Homo sapiens: one gene and its partner. The protein of the gene in region 1 interacts with the protein of each later gene in a pairwise test. Each region holds a gene or a part of one and is shown on either strand. Other genes may lie near its edges.

Region 1 (3,500 bases):
AGGACCCTCCAGATCCCTGCCCAGCAGGCTGGACTTCAGTCCCAAGGTGATAACTAGAACAAGGGGGCCGAGCCTAGTCTGTCCAGCAGCGGGTGGAGGAGCCGCGGTAAGAAAGGCAGTCGGGTCTTACATTCAGGTACCTACTTGGGGCGAGAAGACCAAATCCAGTCACTCCAGCCCTGGAGGAGTCAGGGCGCCCACCCGGCTGCCCCACAGAAGGTGCAATTCCTAAACATGGTCACAAAGTAGCGCAGTGACATCTCAGCTGCTTCGGAGTTCCAGGAGAGGGTTTCTGGCTCAGGAGAATGGAGTTTCTGGGTGACTGGAAGATGAGGCTGTTGGCTAACTTCCCTTTCCTTCCCACTTAGGGGTCTATTTCCAGAAGCATTCCTCATTTCATTTTTTCCCCAGTGGGGCTTGGCTAGGGGTGGGGAGGCATGGGGAAAAAGTGAAGAGAAGAGAAGGAAATGCATGGAATGCAAGCGGAGGCCTCTTTGTCTACAGCGTTTTCACCTCCACTTGTGCAGGTTCATATTCAGGGCCTGGTGAAGTCAGTTCTGGCACGGCTCTCCAGTGGACTGGCAGTGGCCCTTAAAAATAGTTCTCAGGAAGATGTGTAGGTGGCGACGCTGAGTAGTGTTTATGTCCCAACATGAAGAGCAGGCCTCATTGTGTGTGTCCTGTGATTACAACTGTGTGAAAATACATGTGTTTGAGAAAAAATGCTGGAAGAAGATGCATGAAAATGTTTATACGTCCGTTGAGTTTGTATCTGAACTTTTGTCTCTTCCCCTCTTTATGTAATGTTATAGTATGTATATGGTATATTGACTTTCATGATTTAAATAATCAGAAAATAAATTTACTACGAAATGATAAAATAAAGGAGTTTGACTAGATCAGTGATCCTGGAACTGTAGTGGGTAATGAAGCACCTAAAAGGCTGCTTTTTTTGTTTGTTTGTTTTTCCTGAGACGGAGTCTTGCTCTGTCGCCCAGGCTGGAGTGCAGTGGCACAGTCTTGGCTCGCAGCAACCTCTGCCTCCCGGGTTCAAGCAGTTCTCCTGCCTCAGCCTCCTGAGTAGCCGCGATTACAGACACACAACACCACGCCCAGCTATTTTTTGTACTTTTAGTAGAGATGGGGTTTCACCATGTTGGCCAGGCTGGTCTCGAACTCTTGACTTCGTGATCTGCCCGCCTCAGCCTCCCAAAGTGCTGGGATTACAGGCGTGAGCCACCGCCCCCGGCCAGGGCTTATTAAAATAAGATTCTGGGGCCCTAACTACAGAGTTGCTGATTCAGTGAGCCTGGGGTAGACTTGGATATTTACGTTTCTCAGCAGTTCCCAAATGATGCTGCTGGTGTGGGGACCACAGAGAACCACTAGAGAAAAAACAAAAGAACCAAGACTTGAAACTAGGTTACTGACTTCCAGGCTAGGGTGCTTCCTACAGAAACAACACGAGGCTACAGGGCAAACCTCACTTCACTTCTAACTTTCTAGGGTTGAAGGGGTGAGAATCAACATCCACTGCTCCTGGATACTGACTTCTTCCCCAGTAGCTACAACCCCAAAAGTATTTAAAACCCCAAGATATTTGTGAAAATGTATTTGTCCAAAATAAAATATCTACATGCTAAAAAGAAAGCAGTCCTTGAAATGAACAAAAATTCCCAAGCTGAGCATTACTTGTAATTGGTAGAAAAATAATCATTGCAAAAGCTAATTAACCATCCACCCTGAGCGGCTCCTTGGCAGGCCTGAAAATATGATCAGGAAAATTCTTTTCCTATGAGTGAGGCATTATCAAAGCAGGGCAGAGCCTATGGGTTATCCGTTGACTAGGACTGACCTTTCCGTGACTGCCAAAAACTTTCCAGTGACAAATGTTCCAGCTTCCTTGTCCCAAGAGAAACTAAAGTGGTAAGAAAACAAACTGCTTTATACTGAAACATAACAAGATCAACAGCAGCTGTGACAGCATTTATTAAACTGTCCGCTGTGTACCAGGCCCCATGGTCAGTAGGAAAGTATATCCCTGAGGGTACAAAAATGAAAAAGCGTACATCCACTCACCAAGGACTTCCCACTGTGCCAGGGTCTCTAGCCCCTTATGGGGTGTGTGTGGGGGCAGGGAGGTTGGAGATTGGGAGAGGCGCATAATTTCAACACAATGCAATTAGTTTGTAAATAACACTACATGCAAAATGTTACAAGAGCCCTGAGGCAGCGCAGGTTAGCTGAGAAGCCTTTACAGAGGAGGTGATATCTGAGTTGAATCTTGAAGTTTCCTTCAAGAAGTGGAAGGACATTGTAAGCAGAGGGAAAAAAAACATGAACCAGCCTTGCTTGACTCAGAGGCTGGAAAAGGGAGAGTGAAGTTGGGAATTCTTGAGATTTTGGGGTGGCCCTGGATGGGGTACATAAAAAGAAGTGGCCAGAGGGAAGGACAGGAAGGGCCATCCTCAGAAGTTTTGTCCTCATCCTGGAGGCAGGGCAGACCACTGATGAGGGGGGTTGTTTTTAAAAGGCTGCCTTTCCCAGATGGATTGATAGACTTATCTCAGCCTGGCTAAAACCCTGGCCACTCCCTGATAGAGAACAAGGTTCCCAGCAGGCAAGGGCAGGGGTGGGGCCCAGCAGGGACCAGTTTTGCAAGCTCACCTGGCCCTACACCCGCAAACACTCAGCTTTTCCTCCAAGACAAGCCTCAAGGCTTGGAGCAAGTCTCTTTGAAGTTTTCTTATGAATTGCTATGCTTAACACTAAATCATGGGAAAGATTAACACCCATGAAACTGAAGCAGGAGCACATAACAGGAGCTTAATATGAATCTTCCATCTTAAAAATATCTTATTCTACATCTGAAAAGAGAACCATTTGGAAATTCCACGTCATACTCACTTATAGACTTAACAGCAATTTCAACTTTAAAAATTCATTCCCACCTGCATTATATGACTTGATTCTTACAGTAGCCCTGTAAAGAATATTGGGTAGGAATTCTTATTCCCATTTTAGAGACGTAAACATTCACCATCCGCGGACCATGGGGAACACAGCTGACATCAATTGCAAGTCAGTTTCTGTGGTTTACTGCAGCAAGGGAGAGCTCACTCCAGACTTGGGCTTGTGCTGGTTGAGTCTAAGGAAGGGGTGGAAAGCAAGGGGAATTCTGGATTGGATTCTGTCAAAAAGGAGTCCAATTCAATGATTCGGCATCATAATAATTTAATAGTTATCACTAATTATTATTTAATATAATCAATAAATGATCTAGCAGATGGGAAGATGAAAACAGGGCTGAGCTGGCTTTGATACAGCAACACAAGTCATTCCTGTTAGTCAGAAGAGGGAAATGTTTAGTCATGTTTTTTGATTTTGGAGTGGCCTCCTCCCTGTCTTGATGCAAACACAGATGTGGAGGGTCTGTGCTGCACATGTTTCTGTTCGGTGGGCATTGTCTCTGTTCACTTGTGAATATTATGGTCTGGCTG
Region 2 (2,952 bases), on another chromosome or scaffold:
TCTACGTGATTGAGATATGTGTATATTCACAGATCGATAGGACTTTGGTAGGAATCTTAGAAATAAGCTTGTCCATTTTGCAGATGAATAACTACTATGGAATTTTGTTTGTTTGTTTGATGGCAGTGACTGTTTTACAGGAATGCTGTGGCCACTTCAGAGTTTTACACATGCAATAGACTAATCTTCGCTTATTAGTATCTCCAGGATTTAAGGTAGTGAGAAGAATATACTGGCTCCTCCAAAGAACGTCACCAGAAAGGTTATTCAATGTAGTTGACATTTGATGAAGGTTCTTTTCTGTTCAGCAGTGAAGGATTGGTTTTCTCTGGAAGAAACAACCAGGCCAGTATTCTTGACCAAACACAGCCCATACTGGTGGCAGCTAATAGCAGCCCTGTGTACAGAGGCTTTCAACTGCCATAGCCAGGCTGCAAGGGGAGCAGGCAAGAATATATTAATCTTCCAAGCTGGATTTCTAAAACCCCTGGAAAGAAACATTTACATTTCAAATCAAAACATTTCATTACTGAGGAGCGCTGTCTACCCAAATGAGCACTTCCACTCCCTGGTAGACAGGCCAGCTGAAATGTTGTTATTTCATGAACGTGCTAAAAGTAGATGTCTGAATTTATTTCGTTCCCATGTTAATGAGTTGTCCTTCACTCTTACATGCCTATAAATAATAGCACATCATTGCTTAACATATCTTAATTCTGAGAGAGTTTAGCTTTTTTATGGCAGAGCTGATATGTATAGGGACATATCACAAACTTTATGTCCTTGTCCTGTTTAACCAATCACTGGGGGCCAGAAACGCGAAACAGAAACTCAGCTCAGGCTTGGCTTCAAATACTTCTAAGAGTCCTGCACCGCTCCACCAAAGATAAACAGGATCATGTCAAGGGCCTTTGAGCTCATCAGATAAGACTCTCTCCCATTATGAACAACGTAACTTGCCATCATCTGCAGTTACAGCAAACACTGAACTTCAGTTCTTGACCCTGCACAAACACATACATAATGAGACCCTCTGCCTTGCTATGGATTTCCAAAATTCCTTAGGGTCTCTTAAAAATCTGCTGGGATGTGAAACTTTGTCTTTACCTCACCCATACTCATAGGCATTGTCCCTCACCCCTCTCTCATCTGTCCCTCTATCCTTTCTTCCTGCTTTAACTTATCTTTTAAATTGTGATAAAATATGTATAACATAAAATTTACCATTTTAACCATTTTTAAGTGTACAATGCCATGCCATTAAATACATGCACAATGTTGTGCAACCATCACCACTATCCATTTTCAGAACTCTTTTTTTAATCATGCCAAACAAGTGGTGTGTCTGTTAAACACGAATTCCCCGTTCTCCCCTTCTCACAGCCCCTGGGAACCTCTGTCCTACTTTCTGTCTCTATGAATTTGCCTATCCTAGGTACCTCATGTAAGTGAAATCATACAATATTTGTCCTTTTGTGACTGGCTTATTTCACCCAGCACAGTGCCTTTAGTGTTCATCCACGTTGTAGCATGTGTCAGAATTTTATTCCTTTTTTATAGCTGAATAATGTTCCATTGTATGGATATACTACATTTTGGTTATGCATTTACCTATTGATAGACACTTGGGTTGTTTCCACCTTTTGACTATTATGAATAATGCTGCGATGAATATTGGTGTACAAGTATCTATTTGAGTCCCTGCTTTCAATTCTTTGGGGTATATACCTAGGAGTAGAATTGTTGTATCATATAGTAACTCTATGTTTAACTTTCTGAGGAACTGCTAAACTGTTTTCTATAGTGGCTGCACCATTTTACATTTCCATTAACAGTGCACCAGGGCTTCAGTTTCTTCACATCCTCAACAACACTTGTTATTTTTCTTTTGTGTGTGTGTAATAGCCATTCTAATGGTGTGAAGTGGTATCTTATTGTTTTGATTTGCATTTCCCAAATGACTAAGGATGGTGAGCATCTTTTCATGTGCTTATTGGCTATGTATATATATATATTCTTTGGAGAAATAACTAATCAAGTCCTATGCCCATTTTTGAATTGAGCTGTTTGAGGTTTTTTGTTGGTGAGTTGCAAGAATAATTTTTTTCTTTTTTTGAGACGGATTCTTGCTCTGTCATCAGGCTGGAGTGCAGTGGTGCAATCTTGGCTCACTGCAACCTCCGCCTCCTGGGTTCAAGCAGTTCTCCTGCCTTAGCCTCCTGAGTAACTGGGACTACAGGCGTGCACCACCACACCCGGCTAATTTTTGTATTTTTAGTAGAGATGGGGTTTCACTGTGTTGGCCAGGATGGTCTCAATCTCTTGACCTCATGATCCACCCGCCTCGGCCTCCCAAAGTGCTGGGATTACAGGTGTGAGCCACTGTGCTCAACCAGAATAATTTTTATATCCTGAATATTAATCCCTTATCAGATATATGATTTGCAATTTTTTTTAATTTTGTTGTCTTTTCACTCTCTTGACCATGTCCTTTGATGCACAAAAGTTTTAAATTTTTATTCAGCCTAGTTTATCTGTTTTTTTTTTTCTTTTTTCCCTGTGCTTTTTCTTTTTTTTCTTTTAGAGACAGAGTCTTGCTCTGTTGGCCAGGCTGGAGTGCAGTGGTGCAATCTCGGCTCACTGCAATCTCCACCTCCCAGGCTCAAGCAATTCTCCTGCCTCAGCCTCCTGAGTAGGTGGGATTATAGCTGCCCACCACCACACCCAGCTGAATTTTTTTTTTTTTTTTTTTTTGTATTTTTAGTAGAGACAGGGTTTCACCATGTTGGCCAGGCTGGTCTCGAACTCCTGACCTCAAGTGATCCGCCTGCCTCAGCCTCCCAAAGTGCTGGGACCACCGCACTGGACTCCCTGTGCTTCTGGTGTTACATCCAAGAAATCATTGCCAAAGCCAATATTCCTAAAGATTTTTCCCTAATTATTCTTCTAAGA

The links. Proteins that work in one complex are often made in the same cells at the same time.
Region 2: the proteins of LIPC (region 1) and ADHFE1 interact in a two-hybrid assay, tested with the Homo sapiens proteins (one large-scale study listed by BioGRID and IntAct).

The regions. Positions count from the first base shown.
Region 1 is NC_000015.10:58,438,491-58,441,990, forward strand, and holds part of LIPC (hepatic triacylglycerol lipase precursor), read left to right. Parts: intron 1-3,500. UniProt on the Homo sapiens protein: Catalyzes the hydrolysis of triglycerides and phospholipids present in circulating plasma lipoproteins, including chylomicrons, intermediate density lipoproteins (IDL), low density lipoproteins (LDL) of large size and high density lipoproteins (HDL), releasing free fatty acids (FFA) and smaller lipoprotein particles.
Region 2 is NC_000008.11:66,463,504-66,466,455, forward strand, and holds part of ADHFE1 (hydroxyacid-oxoacid transhydrogenase, mitochondrial), read left to right. Parts: intron 1-2,952. UniProt on the Homo sapiens protein: Catalyzes the cofactor-independent reversible oxidation of gamma-hydroxybutyrate (GHB) to succinic semialdehyde (SSA) coupled to reduction of 2-ketoglutarate (2-KG) to D-2-hydroxyglutarate (D-2-HG).